Regions from separate parts of the Homo sapiens genome. Here region 2 is linked to region 1. Evidence: fine-mapped expression QTL. A gene starts in region 1. The other region holds a variant in brackets. All regions are shown on one strand. Distances are between the middles of the regions.

What was found. PIP is the estimated chance that this variant, and not a neighbour inherited with it, causes the effect.
Region 2: its variant is fine-mapped to the expression of PRICKLE1 in whole blood (TOPMed, PIP above 0.99). The same link has a PIP of 0.9 or more in blood mononuclear cells and monocytes.

What each region holds. Positions count from the first base shown.
Region 1 is chr12:42,588,099-42,591,009 of GRCh38, reverse strand. PRICKLE1 (prickle planar cell polarity protein 1) reads left to right here and starts at 1,264. Exons shown (of 8, transcript NM_153026.3): 1 at 1,264-1,545. RefSeq lists an enhancer at 1-541 and a silencer at 1,011-1,260.
Region 2 is chr12:42,695,468-42,698,378 of GRCh38, reverse strand. All of the region lies in intron 2 of LINC02450 (long intergenic non-protein coding RNA 2450), which reads right to left. Among named protein-coding and RNA genes, the nearest start is that of LINC02450, 4.7 kb to the right of the region's middle. RefSeq lists a silencer at 2,592-2,671. The variant A/G (reference allele first, on the strand shown) is at 1,480.

The DNA.
Region 1 (2,911 bases):
CTGAGACTGGCAGTTTTGATTTTTCTTAAAAGGATAAAAATTGCATCAGTCAACACCTCCCTCCACACTCCCCCCACACACATCCTCATCTTCCTGGAAGATGATACAGTATCCTAGAGCGTTGTGGAGAGGATGGAGAGGTCAAGGAAGCCCTGGCTTTGCAGAGGCACCTGTCAAGTTCGGGTTAACAGCTGCCGCCTGTGTCTGCCCTCTGCAGTCCAGGGAAATAGTACCCACACGGTGAGACTCCACCGATCCGGAACTGGAGAGGGTGGGGGGTTCTAAGGTTTAGTGTGACACAAATGTCAGGGCAGAACTTTCAAACAGGCTGAGCCCCAGTTCAACGTGGGTGAGTGCGCCTGAGAGCCCAGCTCTGGGAATTGAGCAGACTGAAAATGTGGAGAGTAGTTTGGCCAGTGAAAAATTGTCACCGTGTTCGGATCAATGCTTTGAACCCGCTTTTAAGTGCGCCACGTTCACTTGGGTCAGGCTCTGGACATTGCGGTGGGCTGAGGTTTTCGCGGGCACGATCCCCCACACTGAGTTTTCATGGAGACGACCAGGGCCGTCGAGGCGGGGAAGGGAACGGACTAGAGGCTGAACTTTGGCTTCTTGCTCTGAAAGATCACTCCTCCGGTTCCGGGGCAGAGACTCAGACCAGCCTGTGGGATTACACGAGACAGGATCGAGTCCAAACGGGTCCCCAGCTCGGCAAGGCGCGCCGGAAGGAATCTAAGTGTTTAATTAACTGCCCCCTTCACACACCCCCCGAAGGAGAAGGAACTCAAATAGGCACCCCTACCCAAATCGTTTGATCAGAGGAAATTGGGTTTGTCTCTCCCCCACCCCCCACCCCGTCCCTTCACTCTTCCTGTGTTTCAGTCCATCGGGATTGTTGGTTAAAAAAAAAAAAAAAAAAAGGCTTATAATCGGGGGCGGGGCAGAGGCTCCGAGCGAGCCGCACTTGCGACTCTGGACCGCGGTTGGTGAACTTTTTTCTCCCTGCGCATAATCCGCCTGCTGCTCTGCCCCACTGGCTGCGCGTGGAGCCGGTCCCAGGCCTGCTCGCAGCCCTGCCCCCGGGCGCGGCCCGAGCCGGGCCCGACCTCGCTTTCAGGGCCGAGCCGGGGTACGCGTGGGCGCGCGCCCAGCGGCCTCGATCCCGCGGCGGCGTCCGCGCTCCGCGTTTTCGCTCGCGCCGGGCCCCGCGGCCGAGGGCGGGGTGCGCGGCGGCGCCGCAGCGCGCGGCTCCGGAGCCCGAGCGCACTCCGCCTGCAGCCCAGCTGCCAGCGCCGTCTCCCGCGGCCGCCGCCGCCCGACAGCGCGCCCGGAACATGCCAGCCTCGCGCAGCCTGCGCTGACTTCCCCGAGACGCGCCGCGGTCGGCACGGAGACTTTCTGGGCTCTGGATGGTTCGTGCGCTGCTCACCCTCGCCCACCCCTGACGCCGCGGACCGCAGCTCCTCAGCCCCGCAGCCCCGCAGCCCAGCAGCCCCGCAGCGGCGCCGAGGACAGTGCAGCCGAGTTGCGTCTCCCTCGCGCGAGGTGAGTGGCAGCCTGGATCCCGGCGGATTCCGCAGAGGGGGCTGCGGCGCGGTGGTGGGGGGCGAGCGCCGCAGGGGTAGGGCCGGGCACCTTCGCTGGCACCGCCGGAGTCTGTGACACCCAGACTGGGTCGGTGTCGCAGAAGATCAGGGAGAAGGTCATAATCGGTTTGTTGGGCTGTGTAGACAGGGAAAGCAGATATTGGCTGCAGCATCGCCAGGGCTCCGCAGAGGCTCTCCGCATGGCTCCTGTTTGCTGCATCACAACCAACTCTTCCCTTGGTTTTCTCCGGCGTGGAAACAGGTTCTGTAGCCCGAGGGTCGAGGCGATGCGGGGCGCCGGGAGGCGAGGGTGCGTTGGCGTGTTCCCGCCGCTTAGGATCGCCTGTCACCTACTGGCGTCCGGAGGGAGGGTACCGATTCTCTCCTCTAGCGCTGGGGAAAGGGGCTGGTGGCTTTTTGGCAGAGGCGAATCAACTCCCACCACTCTCCCCAACCCCCTGCCCCGCGATGGTGTTTGCTGAATGTAGCACAGATATAGGGAAAAAATGGGAGCGTCTTCCTCTCTTGAGGTAGAAAAAGTTGAAGAAACTAGGCATGTTAATAGTTATTAGGAGCGGGACTCAGGATGCAGCAGAAAGCTGTTAAATTTTCATTACCCTCTAAGAAAAACAAACGGCATCGCCAGTGACTATTGGCAGTGCTGTGTTATTCTTGGGACTTTGGGAAAATTGTTCACAGATTGTCTTCAGGAGGCTGAAGAACGAGGTTGGGGGTTGGGAGAGAGGGAGGACGGCTGCATCACGCTTAGTTCCAGCTTGCCTAAGGAGGGTTCAGGATCACAAGCCGAACGCGTTTGGTTGCTGATTTTTAAAAGGGTATCAGCGGCAGAACTGAGACCATGAACAAGGCAAACACACCACGGGAACCAGCCTAAAGGAAAAAAAAAAAGCACCAACAACTACAACCAAAAAAACATGTAAAAATCTGCCTCTCCTGCAGAGTTAACATGCATTTGTGCTATCAAATGGATGCATGTATATGTGTCTTTTAGGATAAGTTTTATGAATGACAAATCACTGAAATGGTATCTTGTATCTGTTCATGCATACAGTGTTGTCTACTGCCTCGTCTTAATCAGTACTTTGGAAGGCTGTGCCTGCAGTTGATGTTATATAATTGATGTGGTTCACCATCAGACATTTTTTAATGTACTTTAGGAGTAGAGGGAACTTCCATCTGTCTTTTCAGACAGGCCCAAGGTGTAGACTGGTGAGGGTTGCTAATGTTTGCCGTAGTCCGGCTCCAGATGTGTGAGCTCAGCTGTTGCCTGTCACTTAGGTGACAACTGGCCCTTTCCCACTAAG
Region 2 (2,911 bases), 110 kb before region 1:
CTTAATCACTCTGTGGGGTGAAACATTTTGCAATGGATATGAGTTATCATTGTTCCATCTATGCAGTTACAGAATAGCAATTCCCTCATCACTAATGAGAACTCTGGGTGAGTTTCCAGAAGACTTGATACATTTCCTGGTCTTTGATGACCTTGTAACACCAGATGTTCTTTTAACTCCAGGTATTCCCTTCAGAAAGTAAATTCCTTTCAAATTCCTTTCCACCAATGACAAACCATATATACAACAGTGCTCCTCGTAAGATTATACCACCATATTTTTACCATACCTTTTCTGTTTAGGTATGTTTACATGCAAAAATGCCATTGTGTTACAATTGCCTACAGTATTCAGTTCAGTAACATGCTGTACAGGTTTGTAGCCAAGAAGCAATAGGCTATACCATCTAGGTTTGTGTAAGTACATTCTATGATGTTCACACAATGACAAAATTGCCTAGTGATGCATTTCTCAGAATGTATCCCTCTCATTAAGCTACTCATGACTGTATGTGTGAAAGAATAAAATGACGCCACCTTTTCGTGAATCTGGTATGGTATGCTGCAATTTTCAAAAATTAAACGGCCCAACCACGCCTCCATGCACTATCTCTATAAAAGATTGTTGTAAGTGAACATCACTTCCTAACTACCAGTAACCAAATATTATACAGAACATAGAGTGGAATTGCAAAGACTGATAAAGTCAATACTTAATAAACATACGATCAGCTCCACACAATAAAAGCAAAAACTAAGAGAAAGGCAGCCAGGGAGTAGTTAGGAATACAGGTTCGGAAGTCAGAGAGCCTGGGTTTGATCTCAGTTCCGGTGCTTAGCAACCTAGTTCAGCAACTTGGATCATTATTTGACCTCACTAAACCCCAGTTTATCTATAAAACGGGATAATAGTAGTGCCTGCCCCATAAGGGCATTGTGTGCCTAGTAAATAAAATAAGGCATTCCAAGCCCAGCACAGCACCCGGTTCATAAATATTAGCTATTATTATTCAGAGGATTTTTTTTTTTGTTATGTCTCTGAAATCCTAACCTGTAATTCCAATCTGCTTACTTCCTTCCATCTAACTCCACAGGCTACAGCAATATCCAACAGCCCCCATATATTACTGAAATGGGAAGGCATCTTATAAATTGTAAATCCAGCCAAGGTTGTACAACCAAGGATGTATCAGACCCTCTGGGCACCCGTGGTGTTGAAAAAGTGTACCTAGTTAAGAACCACTGCCTTGCTCTGAATGTCTCACTTTACAGAGGAGCAAGCTGAGGAGGCCCAGTAGCATGAAGAATCTTCTGGGGTCACAAGACCATTTTCAGAATCTCCTCTTGACAGACCTGGCTCAGACCTCAAACTGGGAGCCAAGTGTCTTGACTCTGATTGCACAATTTTGGCACTCCCCCGGGTCGTCTTATGAAATTCAACGAGCATTTCCTGAGAAACCACAGTAGGGGTCAGGAAGGA[A/G]AACAAGATGGAAACCCCGCCAAGAATGGCATCGCGATCTCATCAGGGAAACAGGCATTGGCGGCGTTAAGAATTCTAAAAGAAGTGCCAACAAAGTGCTAAGAAGTCTGAAGTGTTGCCGCTAACTCACAAAACTTTCATGAAAGAGGTGGAATTTCTACTGGACTTAGAAGGCTAGGGATTGAAAGGAGCCATTCTGGGTAAAGTAAATCATTCAAGCAAAGGCCCCGAGGTTTCAAGAGAGAAAGCTCATGAGAGATCTTACAATCTTCTTGAACAGACAAGGAGATAAACCACAGAGCTGAAACATCTGGGTTCAGAAAAAGCCAATAGTCTGAAGTATCTTTTAGAGCTGCAAAGTGATAAAATTCTTCCACTGTCTCTTCCCAAATTATCCACAGAGCATCTGCTTTCTGCCTGCCTCTGGTTCTGAAAGACTGAATGCCAGAGAGAGGAGTTGCTAGAACAGTTCATGTGTGGGATCCCACTCTGAAGACATTAAGAATGGAGAGGCTCAATTCTCATTCCTTGTAGAAGTAGAAGCCAACAGGAATACAGCCAGCCCCTCTACTCAAAATCTAAGGAGATGATGTGGGAATGAAAATGACAATTCCCTTCATGATATTTGATCCTACATGAAAAAAGTATAAATTTCCAATAATTCTTAGTCTATTTTGCTCTGAAGTTTCAGTAAACAAATAACTACAGCTTGCCATCATGATTTAAAGCTATTGAAACAATAGAAATAATACTATTCAAATTTTCTTTACAACCTTACTAAAATGTTAAAAACAGGTTTGGTGTAGATAAATCCTCCCAACTTGTTCTGGTTAGCTATTGCTGTGTAACAAACCACTCCCAAACTTGATGGCATGAAACAATTATTTTATTATTCTCGTGGATTCTGGTTTTATCAGTAGAGGGTCTTTACAGCAAGTTGTCCAGGTTCTTAGCGTTCGGAACAAAGAATTGGACAAAACACAGCAAAGCAAGGAAGAATGAAGCAACCAAAGCAGAGATAGAAAAGTGAAAGAAATAGAAAGTGAAAGTGTGGGAGCAGGCCCCAGCAGCAGCTCAAGGGCCCCTGATACAGAATCTTCTCAGGGCCAAATACCTCCTAGAGGTTTCCCATTGGCCACTAGGCGTTCACCTCATGTAAATGAGGTGGTGGCCCACAATCAGTCTGATTGGTTGCGGAAAGCAACCAATCAGGGGCTGAAGTGAAGTTATAAAGGTCACACTCCCATGCAAACGTCTGATTGGTTGTGGGAAGCAACCAGTCAGAGGCTAAAGTGAAGTTACAAAGTGACACTCCTATGCAAATGTCTGATTGGTTGCAAAAAGCAAACCAATCAGAGGTACTTTCAATCTCCCATCTGCTGCAGAAAAGGTGGGGGTTTGCAAAGGGAGTAGCCTCTGCAACTACTTTTGT